2 linked regions of the Homo sapiens genome follow. The protein of the gene in region 1 interacts with the protein of each later gene in a pairwise test. Each region holds a gene or a part of one and is shown in the gene's direction. Other genes may lie near its edges.

Region 1 (8,637 bases):
CTCCCAAAGTGCTGGGATTACAGTCATGAGTCACCATGCCTGGCCCAAGTAACATCAATCTTTTTAATTTTGATGATACATTAATTAAAAAAAGATATCCTGTTTTAATTTGCACTTATTTAATTATAGGTGAAGCTAAACATCTTTTCCTATGTTTATTGCCCAGTTGTATTTCCTCTTCAATTTCTTGCCTATTCAAGTTTTTTTGTTTATTTCTTTACTGAGTTGATCATTTTTTTTCTTTCTGGCTTGTAAGGGCTCTTTGTACATCAGAAAAATTCTATTGTCTTCCCAATCTCCTACAATGTTAATTTCATCCTCTCGCTACTGGAATTTTACTCTCAATTTATTATAAGTTTCTACTGCAAAGCTCTTTTTTATTCTTAATTCTCCATGATCACTTCAGCATTCGGGATTACTGAACAGCTCTTTCTTAAAATTTTCTACTCACTTCCTTTTCATAATACTGATTTATTTCATTTCTCTCTGTTTCTTAAATTAAGAAAAATTATCTTAATTTTTCTCCTCTATCTTTACTTTCTATTCCTCTTCCTATTAACGTACCCAAAGTTATATCCATTGTTCTCTCTATACCAGAGTTTCTTGCTCTGTTACAGAGGCTGGAGTGTAGTGGCACAATCACGGCTCACCACAACCTTGACCTCCTAGGCTAAAGCGATCCTCCTGCCTCAACCTACTAAGTAGCTGGAACTATAGGGGCATGCCACCATGCCTGGCTAATTACAAAAAAAAATTCTTTTTTTTTTTTTTTTGAGACGGTCTCACTCTGTCACCCAGGCTGGAGTGCAGTGGCGCAATCTCAGCTCACCGCAACCTCCACCTCCAGGGTTGACGCCATTCTCCTGCCTCAGCCTCCTGAGTAGCTGGGACTACAGGTGCCCGCCACCACGCCCAGCTAATTTTTTTGGTTTTAGTAGAGACAGGTTTTCACTGTATTAGCCAGGATGGTCTCGATCTCCTGATCTCGTGATCTTTCCGCCTCGGCCTCCCAAAGTGCTGGGATTACAGGTGTGAGCCACCGCACCCGGCCAAAAAAATTCTTTTATAGAGACAGGGTCGCACTATGTTGCCCGGGCTGGTCTCAAACTCCTGGGTTCAAGTGATCATTCCACCTTGGCCTCCCAAAGTACTGGGATTACAGGCATGAACCACCGTGGCCAGGTGCCTTTTTTTAAAAATTTTTTTGAGACAGTCTCGCTCTGTCACCCAGGCTGGAGTGCAGTGGCCCAATCTCGGCTCACTGCAAGCTCCACCTCCTGGGTTCACGCCATTCTCCTGCCTCAGCCTCCCGAGTAGCTGGGATTACAGGCGTGTGCCACCATGCCCCATCTCTACTAAAAATACAGCCAGGGATGGTGGCACATGCTTGTAATCCCAGCTACTCAGGAGGCTGAGGTAGTAGAGTCGCCTGAACCTGGGAGGCAGAGGTTGCAATGAGCCAAGATTGTGCCACTGAACTCTAGCCTGGGTAACAGAGTGAGACTCCATCTCACAAAAAAAAAAAAAAAAAAAAAAAAAAAAAAAGATATATGTAGCTAAATGCTCATTGCTGCTTTATTTATAATAATAAATGATGAATGTTATCCCAATGTCCACAGGTAGTTACTAATTAAATGCTGGCATATTTGGACAGTGGAATATTCTGCTGGTTAAAAATTAACCAGTAAAGGGTCGGGCACGGTGGTTCACACCTGTAATCCTAGCACTTTGGTAGGCCAAGGCGGGCGGATTGCCCGAGTTCAGAAGTTCAAGACCAGCCTCGGCAACATGGTAAAACTCTCTCTCTACTAAAAATATAAAAATTAGTCGGGCATGGTGGCACATGCCTGTAGTCCCAGCTACTTGGGAGGCTGAGGCACGAGAATCGCTTGAACCTGGGAGGTGGAGGTGGCAGTTAGCCGAGACTGAGTCACCACACTCCAGCCTGGGTGACGGAGTGAGATTCCTGTCTTAAAAAAAAAAAAGGCTGGGTGCAGTGGCTCACACCTGTAATCCCAGCACTTTGGGAGGCCGAGGCAGGCGGATCACGAGGTCAGGAGTTCAAGACCAGCCTGGCCGACATGGTGAAACCCCATCTCTACTAAAAATACAAAAATTAGCTGGGCATGGTGGTGCGTGCCTGTAATCCCAGCTACTAGGGAGGCTGAGGCAGGAGAATCGCTTGAACCCAGGAGGCGGAGGTTGCAGTGAGCCACGACTGCGCCACTGCACTCCAGCCTGGCGACAGAGCAAGACTCCATCTCAAAAACAAAACAAAACAAAACAAAAAGACAACAACAAAAAAAAACCCAAGTAAAGTAAAAAATTAAAGTAGTGGTTAAAAAATTAAAGTAGGGCCATGTGCATTGCCATAGAAAAAAGTGAAAAAGGTTATGTAGTATAAACTTGTTTTCATTTAAAATTATATACACATATGTGAATATATACTTAGAAAAATAAAAATAAAAGGTCAGGCGCGGTGGCTCATGTCTGTAATCCCAGCACTTTGGGAGGCCAAGGTGGGCAGATCACGAGGTCAGAAGATCGAGACCATCCTGGCTAACACGGTGAAACCTCGTCTCTACTAAATATACAAAAAATTAGCCAGGCATGGTGGCACACGCCTGTAGTCCCAGCTATTCGGGAGGCTGAGGCCAGGAGAATCTCTTGAACTTGGGAGGTGGAGGTTGCAGTGAGCCAAGATCGTGCCACTGCACTCCAGCCTGGGCAATGGAGCGAGACTCCACCTCAAAAAAAAAAAAATACACCAAAGTCTTAATTATCGGGGGAAGTAGGATTATAAGAGATTTCACTTTCTACAGAAATTGTTAATATTCATATTACTGTTGTCAGCATTGTTGTCATAAAGCAATTAAAAGTGCCTAACACATAGAAGCTACTATATAAATATTACATTATACTAAAATAGTTTTGGGAATATTTTTGCGTTGTTTTTTGGCAATGAGCATGAATTATTTTTATAAGCAGGAAAAAATAAATACATGAGGTGGTGAAAATGCAGGTAGTATTTGATCATTTTAAATGTAATGAAGGGTTAAAAATGAGAGCTAGAGGATGCCAAAGGGTCCTCCATGCATACTTGAAAGGACCTAGTTGAAAGCGGAAGGTTGATAATGATAAAGCCCCAGGCAGAAGAGAATGGGAAACTCTAATGATAACATGAACTGATATTTAATGAATGTTTACCCTGGGCCAGGTGTTCCAATTGCTTTTGAGCCCACAGGAAGGAAAGGTTAATCTTTTCCTTTGAGATTAGAACCAAGAAATTATTTTATTTATTTATTTATTTATTTTTTAGGTGGAGTCTTGCTCTTGTCGCCCAGGCTGGAGTACAGTGGCCTGATCTCAGCTAACAGCAACCTCTGCCTCCCGGGTTCAAGTGATTCTCCTGCCTCAGCCTCCTGAGTAGCTGGGATTACAGGCGCCCACAAGCACGCCTGACTAATTTTTGTATTTTTAGTAGAGACGAGGTTTCACCATGCTGGCCAGGCTGGTTTTGAACTCCTGACCTCAAATGATCCGCCCGCCTCAGTCTCCCAAAGTGCTGGTATTACAGGCATGAGCCATCGCGCCCAGCCCAGAGCAAAGATTCTTAACCTCAGTTTCCTGAAATTATATCCTAAATTTGTTGGGTAAGTGCATTTTTTAAAGTACAAGAGAAGGCCCATAAGTTACATCAGATTTTAAAAAGGGTGTTTGAGCCCCCCTCTTCCAAAGATAGAAGAATCAAGGAAGAAAGGGTAAAACATACATACATATATATATATATATATATATATATATATATATATATATATATTTTTTTTTTTTTTTTTTTTTTTTTTTTTTTGAGACGGATTCTCACACTCTGTTGCCCAGGCTGGAGCGTAGTCGTGCAGTCTTGGCCTACTGCAACCTCTGCCTCCTGGGCTCAAGTGATCTTCCCGCCTCAGCCTCCCAAGCAGCTTGAGAGAACAGACATGTGCTACCTCGCCCGGCTAATTTTTGTATTTTTAGTAGAGACGGAGTTTTACTACATTGAGCAGGCTGGTCTCGAACTCCTGACCTCAAGTGATCCGCCCACCTCGGCCTCCCAAAGTGCTGGGCGTGAGCCACCGCGCCCGGCCGAAAGATTGGTTTTAAAAACGAGTATTTTGAGATGATGAGAAAACGAGAGGGTTTCTGCCAGTTGTCCTTTCTCCCAGTGAAACAGGATTAGAGATTCTCTTTAATGACAGTAAAATTTGGTGATTGTGACATTTCCAAGTTCTGTTGATTGATTCATCATCTTCCCTCCATCATACACGTCTAAGGGCAGAGTGAACTTCCATCCTGAAGGCTCCGCGCTTAGTTTTCGCAGATTAATAGCTCACCAAGAATTTATCATCTTTTCTTTCCACTAACTCGAAACCAATCTAAATTCTTTCCAAACATCTTCTCAACGTAGTCTCCTTTGATGAAATTTACTGTTTCGGATTCTAGACTTGGCTCTTACCAACTTAACTTTCGGTTAATAGCTTAATACCTCTGATTCAGGTTTTTGCATTTGTCAACTACCATTGAATGATAATTTCAATGAGTTCGTTCTTATGAGGATCAAATGAAATAACATCTGTGAAAACCTCTTACAAAGTTTAAGCAAATAGTGCTAAGCAATCACCAAGCGTTAACTACTAATTTTCAGTGTTAGGTAAATTTTAAAAGCTTTCCGGAGAATTGGCGTCCTGCACACCAGTCTCGTTCCAAAATAATGCAGGCGGGGGCTGGGGTGGGGGCGCTCCTCTCGGACTGAGGCTATGTCTTTCGCTCCTTTTGTCTTTTCCAGGCATTAGAACTGTCATGGCGCCTTCAAGAAGAGGTAGGAGGCCCTCTCTGCGTCCAGCAGAACCATCTGGGGCACCTGGACCGGGCGGTGGGGTGGACAGAGAGACGAGCCCCAGCTGGGACCGAAAACATCGACCCCTCCGAGAGGTCTCGGCCGGACCGGCGCAAGGGGAGGAGAGCGGGTGGAAGCCCACCCCAGCGAACGCCCGAGGGCCGGGCCCCGCCCACCCAGAACGTCACCCAATGGAAACCTGCCGGCGGTGCGGCACCGCCCATCGTTGGTCCGGGCGCCGCGAGGGCGGGGCCCGCAGTTCGGTTGCGCTGCGGAGCGCAGCTGTGAGGGAGTCGCTGTGATCCGGGGCCCCGGAACCCGAGCTGGAGCTGAAGCGCAGGCTGCGGGGCGCGGAGTCGGGAGGTGAGCGCCCAGGGAAAAGAGGGCCCGGGAGGGAGGGGTTCGCGAGAGGACGGAAGGATCGGCCTCCGAGGCCCGGGACGGTGGGACCCGCCAGTCGGGTGCTGAAGGCGGCCCTGCTCACTCAGTAGCCCAGGCCCGATCGGGCCCTGCCTGCTGGAGCCGAGGGGCCGCTTCGGCCCCGCAGTCGCTGCTTAGCCCTCCCTGGCGTCTCTGGCTTGGCGGCGGCGCCCCGGGATTCTGCGGGCGCGGGTCGGGAGGCCCTGGCGTTCGCTTGGAACTCCGGCTGCGAGAGGCGGGGCCCGGCGGGTGGGGGCGGGGGCGGGGGCGGCGGTCGCGGCCCGGCGGCCTGCGGAAGCTCGGCGGCCTGGCCTGGCCTGCTCGCGGGGAGGTGCGCAGACTGCGCGGGGGCGTGGCCTGCGCCCCTGACTGCGCTGTCGGTCCGGCCTTTGATGAGGTGGCCGCCGCTGGCTCCCTGGGCCCCAGCCTGGTTCCCGCGCGGGCCGCGGCTGCCTTCCAGACGCAGGGCATGCGACCTGTTGGAGTGTGAAATTCTAGGGGCCGGGTTCCTCCCCAGAGCGGTTTTATTTCCGACTGGACTGTGCTGCGGGTCTCAGAGGCCCTCTGGTCCGTTCAGGGTGAGGACAGCTGAGAGGCCTGGGCCCGTGAGCTCTTGCAGAGGAGTTGACACGCAGAGGGGCTGCTGTCCAATAAACGAAAGTGTCGGGGAAAAACTTTGCAGGGCGATCTGCATTACTCCAAAGTGAACACACTGCATGTCTCAGGGTGGCTGGAGGCGGCGAGAATCCCCTTATGGGAGTATATGAGCTTTTCCATGTGTTATCTCTTTAAAACCTCTCAGCGGCTCCGAGACAAAACTCCCAGTGTCGCAGAGGTTTCTTCATCAATAGGAGTAGTGCTGGAGAATCTTGGGCACTGCCCTCATTTTGCCTGCGAAGGAAAAATTAGGAAGGGATAAAAAGTCACAAAAATTAGGAAGGTGGGGGGGATAAGCAAATTCCAAGGGCATCTATCTCTGATGAAGGGTTGGTGTCTCCTGTGGTGCCCTACTGTGGATTAGTTATTTGTGTCCTCGGTCCAGAAGTTTCTCTGGAGCCCATTGGCTACAGCTTTCCTGTATTAGAATTCTACTGTTATTTCCTACTGTAGTCTGGCTGGGAATTTTATTTAGTTGTTCAGATTTTAGATGCATTCAGTGAATGCAGCTGCTCAAGGAAGTAACTAATAGTGTCTTACCATTTTCTTAGCTACTTTTCAGAAGAAGGAACATGATCTCTAACAGAAGTTTTCTGGTAGATTACTAAAACAGGCAGATAGTAGCTTTCCTGGCTGGCTGAGTTAAATCCCTCTCCAGCGATCCTCCCACTTCAGCCTCCTAAGTAGCTGGGATTACAGGCATGAGCCAGCGCGCCTGGCAAATCTCTCTAGAATAAGTCAGGATCTAGAAAATAACATAGGGAAAGAATATCTTGCCAGATTTCCTCTGTACTGCCTATTGCTCTTTGGTATTTACTAGACTGTCTTCTAATAAAAATCTCCTGAGTTGAGTTAAACGTAGTGTAGATTGGGGGCAGAGATGGGCACAAATGGGCATCAGAGAGTTCTAAAAATAAATGTGGGCTTTTCAAAAGATTGGTGTGTTGACTGGAGACTTCTGAACTTAGAGGAGCACATTTAGTTTCCAGGGTATCAGTTTCTTTTTCTTTTCTTTCTTTTTTTCTTTTTTTTTTTTTTTTTGAGTCATAGTCTCACTCTGTCACCCAGGCTGGAGTGCAGTGGCGCCATCTGGGCTCACTGCAACCTCCGCCTCCTGAGTTCAAGTGATTCTCGTGCTTCAGCCTCTTGAATAAGCTGGAATTATAGACGTGCGCCACCACACCCTGCTAATTTTTGTATATTTTTGTATTTTTTTGTTGCCCAGGCTGGTCTCGAACTCTTGAGCTCAAGCAATCTGCCTGCCACCATCTCCCAAAGTGCTGGGATTACAGGCGTGGGCCAGCTTGCCTGGCCCAGGGTATCTCTTTCATACTGTAGAGAACTCTCTTGAGCTGAGCACACACAGGTTCCAACTCCTTCACAGTCTTTATTCTTAGAGATATGAAATAACATTAAGTGGTTGTCTTGTGACTTTTTGTACAAGTTAATGGCATTTAGCTCTCAATAATTCTTTTTCTTCAAGTACCCATGACCCTGAAAATGTTATGCTGTATAATACTTTTTCCTATAAAAGTTGTACCTTGAGTTATTTATACTTGTAAGAAATAACCTAGGCTGGGTGTGGTGGCTCACGCCTGTAATCCCAGCACTTTGGGAGGCTGAGGCGGGCGGATCATGAAGTCAGGAGATTGAAACCATCCTGGCTAACACGGTGAAACCCCATCTCTACTAAAAATACAAAAAATTAGCTGGGTGTGGTGGCACGTGCCCGTAGTCCCAGCTACTCGGGAGGCTGAGGCAGGAGAATCGCTTGAACCTGGGAGGCGGAGGTTGCAGTGAGCCGAGATTGCACCACGGCACTCCAGCCTGGGTGACAGAGTGAGACTCCATCCCCTCTGCCAAAAAATAAATAACCTATATCAGATCTAGTCCCCCAGAGAATGGAAACTTCAGAGCCTTTGAGCAATGTGAATGAAATGAAAGCTGGAAGCTTAAAGTCTTAGCTCTGGCTTGAATTTGTGGCTGCTTGAATGTGGGCATTTATTTTGTTTGTTATTGTATCTCAAGGACTTAGCCCAGTGCTTGGCCCACAATAAATGCTTAATAAAACATCTGTTAAATGAGTGAATGAAAAAAAAAATGTTGTTAACCAATACCCATTTGTCACACTCACATCACAGGAAAGGTGAGGTCATCAGGGATGAAGTCACTAACAACTGCCAGTCATGTGCCCCAAGGGTAGCCTCACCATGGACTAGTGGGCTTGTTCTGTGTAGAGAAGGGATGGATAGTGAATGCCAAGGTTAGTTCTAGCTGGATAAATTAGCCAAGGGTTTCAGCTGGATAAGTTGGCTGAGGGTGCTACAGGTCTAGCCTTAAGGCTGTCTCACTGAAACATTTTGGAGTCTGGAGTCATCTGTTCTGAATAGCGCCCACATAGTTTATATTTTTTTATTTTTTGAGACAGAGTCTCACTCTGTTGCCCAAGCTGGAGTGCAGTGGCACGATCTCAGCTCACTGCAACCTCTGCCTCCCGGGTTCAAGTGATTCTCCTGCCTCAGCCTCCTGAGTAGCTGGGACTACAGGTGCGTGCCACCACACCCAGCTAATTTTTTTATTTTTAGTAGAGACAGGGTTTTGCCATGTTGGTCAGGCTGGTCTCGAACTCCTGACCTCAGGTAATCCACCTACCTCGGCCTCCCAAAGTGTTGGGATTAAAGGCG
Region 2 (7,891 bases), on another chromosome or scaffold:
CTGGGGGGCCTCGCTGGTTTCCCACAAAATCGTCAGGCGGGCCTGGGACTGTCACCGAGGGGTGTGGGCTGTGCCTAGTAGCCATCCCTCCCTCCCGCCCTGCTGGGCCCTGAGCTGCCGCTCCTGGCCCCTCCCCGCAGGTGCCCGTGATCCGGAATGGTGGCTCCAACACCCTTAATTTCCAGTTCCACGACCCCGCGCCCAGGACTGTGTGCAATGGGGGCTACACACCAAGACGAGATGCTTCCCAGCACCCGGGTAGGTCTGCTCAGGAGCCTCATGCTGGAGATGGAGGGTCAGGGCCCTGCCATCTGGCACTGCCCTGTGTCAAGCGGGAGGGGCAGCAGCTGGAGATGGGGTTCTCAAGGCCATGAGGAGGTTCCTCAGAGGCCTCTGGGCTCACTATGAGCCCCTCCCTGCGGAGCCTGCTGACTCTGCAAGAGACACCCGCTTGGGGAGAGCAGGCTGATGCATCCCTTCCCCTGCCCTCCAGCCTGGTGCCAGGGAAAGGAAGCGTGCAGGAGCCCTGGGCGCCGGAGGACCTCCCACAGGGACTGGGGATGGAAGGGTGGAGGTGATGTGGGTATCTGTTGGCTTGGGAAGGGGTGGAGACTGTCCCATTCAGGCCCAACAGGCTACCCAGCAGGAGGTTAGAGAGGCAGTTCTAGATCCCAGTCCAGAGGTCCTGGGAACTCCTGGGTGCAGGCCAGCCCTGAACATGTCTCTCCTAAAGTGACATCCTTTATCAAGCATTCCCCTAAGACAGGTGCTGTGTAAAGGAATTTATTCATTTAACAATTATCCAGCCTGGGCAACATAGCAAGACCCTGTCTCTATCAGCCTGGATGACACAGCAAGACCCTGTCACTTAAAACACACACACACTGAGAGGCTGAGGTGTGTGGATGACCTGAGGTCAGGAGTTCGAGACCAGCCTGGCCAACATGGTGAAACCCCATCTCTAATAAAAATACAAAAATTTGCTGGGTGTGGTGGCGGGTGCCTGAAATCCCAGCTACTTGGGAGGTTGAGGCAGGAGAATCACTTGAACCTGGGAGGTGGAGGTTGCAGTGAGCTGAGATCGTGCCACTGCACTCCAGCCTGGGCAACAAGAGCAAAACTGTCTCAAAACAAAAACAAAAACAAAACAAAACCAAAAAAAACACCCACACAATTATGGAACACCCAGAGCGTGCTGGACACTGTAAAAACACTTTACGAGGCTCACCTCGTTTAACCCCTCGATATCCTGACAAAGTAGGGGTGATGATGACTGACAGCTTCCCAGTAAGGAACCCCATTCGCAGAGATGTTCAGCCATAGAGGCTGAGCTGCAATTCACACACTTGTACATCTGGCCTCAAAGCCCTTATTCTGCTGCCCTAGCTACTTAGAGGCTAACACTTATGGGTAAGTTGAGGACTCAGTCACAACCATGTCTGGGGAATGGGTTTCTGACCTTCACTGAGAGCCTCTCGACTGTGTGCCAGGCACTGTGCTGGGTACAGTCACACACGCTAGATGTCACTGAATCCTTGTCACAATGACCCTTGTTTTACAGAAGTGGAAACTGAGACACTGAGAAGGTGACTGATGTACCCCAGGCCATGGCAGCCAATAGGTGGTAGAGCTGGGGTCTGAATTCAAGTCTGTCCCCTCTAAGCCCAGCATCTTTACTGCCACACCCCAGCTGGGATGTCCCCTGCATTCTCTACAAGTAATGATTTCCAGACCTTATTCTGAAAGCACTTAGGATAGTCCCAGGAAAGAAGGATGGGGGTAGGGCCAGGCACGGCATTCTCAAGATCAAATCCATTTAAATTCACTTAAACAAACAGAGGCCCGTGGTGCTCTGAGTCATCCACTCAAACAAACAAGGCGATGTTGAAACTTTGAACCCACAGAGATCCATGCTCTGAGGAGCTAAGGGACACACAGGTTCAGGTGGAGACCCCTGCCTTTCACTAATGCTCTCCTGCACGCACCCAACAGACCCTGCGTGGTATCAGACCTGGCCAGGCCCTGGGAGCAAGCCCTCTGCAAGCACAAAGATCCCTGCCTCCCAGCACACCCAGAACTGGTCAGCCACGTGGACCAAGGACAGCAAGCGTCGGGACAAGCGCTGGGTCAAGTACGAGGGAATCGGGCCCGTGGACGAGAGCGGCATGCCCATTGCCCCCCGATCCGTGAGTCCAGGGCTGGGGGCCACGGAGAGATGGGGCCCAGGGATCTACAGGGAGCTGCACTTCTGTGCATTAAAATGGGGGTGGGGCAATAAAGGCCGCACCCAAACCATCCCAGATTAAGCAGGGGTTCAACCGTGGTGGGGTTCAGCGGCTGTAAACCTCATAAAGCTGCAGACACCCTCGTGTGCCTGAGTTGCTCAAGTGGTTTGTGCGGGGTACAGATCTAGAACTCTCATCAGGGCCTCAAAGGTAGAGAACCCCTGCTGTAAGGCCTGAGGCTGCAGGGGACCCTCTCTTAGTTTCATATCCCCAGGGCCTGTCACGACGCTCATGAAATGGTTGCTGAATGAATGACTGACCGGCCGAATGAGTGAGTGAGTCTTGTGTGAGAAGGTCTCTCACTGTGGCAAGCGTGGAAGGATCCGGGGGTCCAGTTAGGACTGGGGATACCCTGCCCTTTTCCATCCACCTTTGTGTCTTGAGCCAGCTCCATTTTCTCATCTGGAAATTGGAGCTGGTAACATTCCCTTCCTGTTTTGAGGCTGTTTTGAGGCTTGGATGAAGCAGGTGATGTGAAACACGCATCTCACTCCTACATTATTGCTGTCATTTTTGGCCCAGGTGCAGTGACTCACGCCTGTAATCCCAGCACTTTGGGAGGTCAAGGCGGGAGGATTGCTTGAAACCAAGAGTTCCAGACCAGCCTGGGCAACATAGTGAGACCCTGTCTCTATAAAAAAAAAAATAAAATAAAATTAGCTAGGCAAGGTGGTGCACGACTGTAGTTCCAGCTACTCAGGAGGCTGAGGCAGGATGATTGCTTGAGCCCAGGAATTGGAGGCTGCAGTGAGCTATGATCATGCCACTGCACTCCAGCCTGTGTGACACAGGAGACCCTGTCTCCCCACAAAAGAAAAATGTTCTTTGTAGAAACACTAGACATAAAGAAAAGCAAAGAGAAAAAATGTAAATTGCCCCAAATCTCATAACATCATTATTGCATACACTTCGATGGAGATCTTGTCATATATCTTACTTATATAGGACGTGTTACATGAAGCTATTGTTATTAAAGAGATCGCAAGAGAAGCATTTCCCAGCCCACCTATGGGGGGTTCAGGGATGGCCAGAGAAGGGACTCACTAGGGAAAGATTTTTGTGGCTTGAAATTGGGAGGGTGAATAAGCAGGGAGGACTGACTTTGCATTTTCTGATCCCAGAGCGTTGACAGACCCAGAGACTGGTACCGGAGAATGTTCCAGCAGATTCACCGGAAAATGCCAGGTAAGATACCCTTCCAGGGCCCTCTCCCTGCCAAAGTGGATTCTGGCCCCTGGGGCTTGGAGAGACAGGGAAAGAAAAGGGGACTTAGCTGCTCAAGGGGTTCTTCTCCACCTTCTCCCAGGCTCTAATGAGTAGTCCTGAAAATAGGCAGTCCCCTCCCTGTACTCGGGGCCAGCAGCGGTCTCCAGAGCATCCCCAAGAAGAACATTGACCAGCCACTGTCCCACAGTGTCCTCTGAGGGGACTGAGAAGCCATTCCTTTCCTTAAGTCCCTCTCTGATTTCCCTGCCAAGCTGGAATGCCACTGTTAGCGGTCATTCCCTTACTGGAGGCATTGCTTTCTTCCACAACTCAAAATGCAGCCAACCCTGGGGGTGCCTATGAGCTGGCTCCGAGGTCACCCATCCATTCAGTGAGTCCTTGACCATCTATTGAGCATGTACCACATGCTGAGCACTATTCTAGGTGCCAAAGATCAAAGGAAGTCACACAATAAACAGACACACCTTTGACATGACAGATGGTGGAAAGGGCTAGGGAAAAATAAAGCCAGACTGGGAGAGTGCCCCATGCAGGGAGGCTGCTCCTTCACCCAGGAGCGGCCAGGAAGGTCATTTGTAAGCGGTGTTTGATCAGACCATGGAGGGAGTGAAGGAGTCGGCCTGGCAGAGCTGGGGGAAGCATTCCAGCAAAGGGAGCTCCGAAGACCCAGAGGTAGAAGCATGTTCTGGACGGGCAAGGAGAGCCTGGCCTGGAGCGAGGAGCATGTGGTGGGAGATGGAGTCAGAGAGGTGGTGGTGTCAGGGTACGTGGGGCCTTGTGGGCCATTATAAGGACTTCAGCTTTTACGGTGCAAATAAGGAGGAGCCACTGAGCGGAAGAGTGCCATGCTCTGACAAGTAATGGCTGAAAAGATTGTGCCTGGCTGTGGGGTGGGAAAGGAATGGTGGAACCAGTTCCCTTGCCTGGTAAGGGCTAGGGAGAAAAGGCCACCTTTACAACTTTGCTTCAATCCAGGGGAGAGATAATCGTGTGTTAGACCAGGGCGGTAGCAGTGGCCCTGGTGGGACAGGATGAGACTCTGAATACACTGCAGTCACTGGAATTTGCTGATGGATTGGACGTGGCTTGGAAGAGAGAGTCAAGGATGGTTTTAAACCTCAGCAAGTTGAAGATTGGAGTTGCCATTTGTCAAAACAGAAAAGACTGTAGGAGTAGCATTCACAGGCCGGGCGCGGTGGCTCACGCCTGTAATCCTAGCACTTTGGGAGGCCAAGGTGGGTGGATTGCCTGAGCTTAGGAGTTCGAGACCAGCCTGGGCAACATGGTGAAACCCCATCTCTACTAAAAAATACAAAAAAGTAGCTGGATGTGGCGGCATGCACCTGTAATCCCAGCTACTCGAGAAGCTGAGGCAGGAGAATTGCTTGAACCTGGGAGGCGGAGGTTGCAGTGAGCTGAGACCATTCCACTGCACTCCAGCCTGGGCAATAGAGCAAGACGCTGTCTCTAAAAAAAAAAAGAAAAAAAGAAAAGAGGTGTTCAGTTTTAGACACATGTTCCCTCTGAGTGAAGAGGTTGAGTAAGCAGATGAATATCCAAGTCTGCAGTTCACGGGACAAGGTCTAAAACTGCAGATGGAAATACCTGGGACTCATTCAAAAGAGATTTTGGGACCAGCCTGGCCAACATGGCGAAACCCTGTCTCTATCAAATATACCAAAATTAGTTGGGCATGGTGGTGTGCACCTGTAATCCTAGCTACTCCAGAGGCTGAGGCAGGAGAATTGCTTGAACCTGAGAGGCAGAGGTTGCAGTGAGCTGAGATCACCCCACTGCACTCCAGCCTGGGTGACTCAGTCTCAAAAAAAAAAAAAAAAGAAGAGAGAGATTTTGATTTAAAGTTTCCCCAGTAATTCTAGTGGGGAAACTTTAAACTTTTAACTAGCAGCCAAGATTGTGAAACATGGGAATAGATGGCGTTTTAAAAGCCTTAAGACTAGCTGGGTGTGGTGGCACACACCTGCAGTCTCAGCTATTTGGCAGGCTGAGGAGTTCAATTCAATTCCTGGGAGCCCAGGAATTCAAGTCCAGCTTGGGCAACATAGCATGATCCCGTCTCTGAAAAACAACAATCCATAAGACTAGACAAGATCACCTAGGGAGATAGAGAGACAAACAGACCCCAGGACTGAGCCCCCACGCACCTGGATGCTTAGAAGTTTGAGAGATGAGGCGGAACCAAAAAGGCAACTGAGAAGGTAGAGCCAGGGAGGTAGGAGGAAAACGGAGAGATCTCCCTGGGGCCAAGTGGAAAGGGAATTCCAAAAGAAAAATGTGACCAGTGGTGACAAATGCAGCTGATGGGTTGAGTAAGATGAATACTTAGAATTGACTGTCAGATTTGGCAACGTGGAGGTCACCAGCATCCTTGATAAGAGTGAGTGGTTGGGCAGTGGTGAGCAAAAGCCTGTTTAGGGAGACGGGGAGTAGGGGGATTGGAGATGGTGTGGTCTTTATGGTCACTGGTTACAGTTTACTATGGGGGAAAGCAGACAAATCCAGGAGTCAGAGGAGGGTGTGGGGTCCAGTGAGGGGTGATGTGGCTGGCGTTTAGGCAGGTGCCGTTGCAGCGCATGCGTGTGTGTGTGTGTGTGTGTGTGTGTGTGTGTGTGTGTGTGCGCGCGCGCACGCGCCGTGGGGAGCAGTGGGTCAGTAGCTCTTTCCAGGAAGCCCCAGAAATTCCCAGGCACCTTGAGGAGCTAGGAGTGGGTCTTGGCAAATGGGGAAGGAAAGCGTTTGGAAGAGGGTGCAAGTCGAGTTTCCCCAGCCTGAGTGGTGAGGGCAAGTCCACAAAGGTCAGGAGAGGGTGTGTGTGGGAACAGGGAGGGAGGAGCAGGAGGGCTTGGGCAAGGCGGCTGCCCGCTTGGCTCGCTTAGGCCCCAAGCCTGCCAGAGGCATTTCAAGCCCTCCAGAGAGCTGCCCTCCTAATTCCTTCCCTCCCTTGGGACATTCTTCAGGCCCTGACTCAGCCCTCAGCCCCCTACTCTAGGGATGTTGGGAGCGGCTGAGGTTGCCTCCCAGGGCACCCTGCCCTTGCTTTCTGCCCCGTCCCATGACCTGGTCCCTTCTGCTCCTGCAGACTTGCAGCTGGACTGGACCTTCGAGGAGCCACCCAGAGGTGAGGGGATGCGGGCCCACCTGCCTGCCATAGCCCTGCGCCTGCGTCCGCCCCTCCCTGGGGCTGGGACTCGCAGCCCCGCCTGGCTTTGGGGCTCTCCAGTTGGCTCAGTTCAACCTGAGAGGTTTTTATAGCTCATTTCCAGAGCACTTCAAATCCCCCGGTAGGTGGTAATTAACAGCCTCAGCTTGCACGGGGAACGCGCGCTCTGCCACTCCCTGGCCGGGATTTCTCTGGGCCTCCCTTTCCTCATCTATAAGATGAGATCATCACCTACTCGGAGTTGTTTTGAAGATGTAGTAAATGTCGTAAAGCTCTGAGGGCAATGCCCGCGTTCAGTGTCCCTGAGCACCAACCACCCTGCCCCCACCATCCACCCAGGAGCAAGGGGGTGGTGCTGAAACTCTAAATAATCACCCAGGCACCCTCAGCCCCAGTCACGGCCTGTCTCCTCCCACCTTCAATGCTTTCCTCGTGTACCTCCTCTGCAGACCCCAGGCATCTAGGAGCCCAGCAAAGACCTGCCCACAGGCCCGGCCCGGCAACATCTTCCAGTGGGTGAGCACAGTGGGGCGGGGCCGAGGGCTGCGGAGGGGCGCGGCCCGCGAGACACCATGGGACGGGCGCCCCCTCGTGACCACAGCCGGCACAGCCTCGGAGCCCAGCCAGGAGTGGGGTCTCACTTCCGTGTCCGTCTGGGCTCTGTCCCATCTCTGGGTCTCCACCACCCCCATAGACTCTCTTCCCTACAGGGTCAAGGGGGGAAGGGTAGGCAAGAGTGGACCTGGCACCCGCTCCTGGCCAGGAACGCCTGTGATGCGTTTGTGGTCAGCAGCAGGAACTCTTTGCCCCAAAGATCCCACCGGTCTTATGAGACCGGGAGTGGGGCGGCCAGGACAGCCGTGGACAGAACTGTTGAGGGGAACTTGGACCTGGCGCTGTCCACTTTGAAACCTGAGAGAAAACAAGGGATATGGAAGAACCCAAGTTCCAGCCTGATAGCACAGAGAGAGGAGCCCCTTGGAGGGATAAGGATGACATTCCTTTCCTCTGTGCAAACCACAGGCTCCGCCCGGCTGCTGGGGCCCTGGCGGGGTCAGCACCACCGTGGGAATCAGGATCTTTGCTCTCAGAGTTAAATCCTTGAGTTTCTTATTCCCTTGCAGGGAAGGACTCGTCTCATTAGCATGGCTGAAACTGGCCCGTAGCTCTGGGCATCACCGATAAGGTTCAGAGGCAA

Evidence for each region. The genes of interacting proteins can lie anywhere in the genome.
Region 2: the proteins of NRBP1 (region 1) and SORBS3 interact in binary tests that used the Homo sapiens proteins (3 or more experiments, as listed by UniProt).

Annotation. Positions count from the first base shown.
Region 1 is NC_000002.12:27,423,493-27,432,129, forward strand, and holds the start of NRBP1 (nuclear receptor-binding protein), read left to right. Parts: upstream 1-5,138; 5' UTR 5,139-5,239; intron 5,240-8,637. UniProt on the Homo sapiens protein: Required for embryonic development. Plays a role in intestinal epithelial cell fate and proliferation, thereby involved in the architectural development of the intestine potentially via the regulation of Wnt-responsive genes.
Region 2 is NC_000008.11:22,554,723-22,562,613, forward strand, and holds part of SORBS3 (vinexin), read left to right. Parts: intron 1-140; coding exon 141-258; intron 259-1,992; coding exon 1,993-2,186; intron 2,187-3,406; coding exon 3,407-3,470; intron 3,471-6,612; coding exon 6,613-6,651; intron 6,652-7,142; coding exon 7,143-7,209; intron 7,210-7,891. UniProt on the Homo sapiens protein: Vinexin alpha isoform promotes up-regulation of actin stress fiber formation. Vinexin beta isoform plays a role in cell spreading and enhances the activation of JNK/SAPK in response to EGF stimulation by using its third SH3 domain.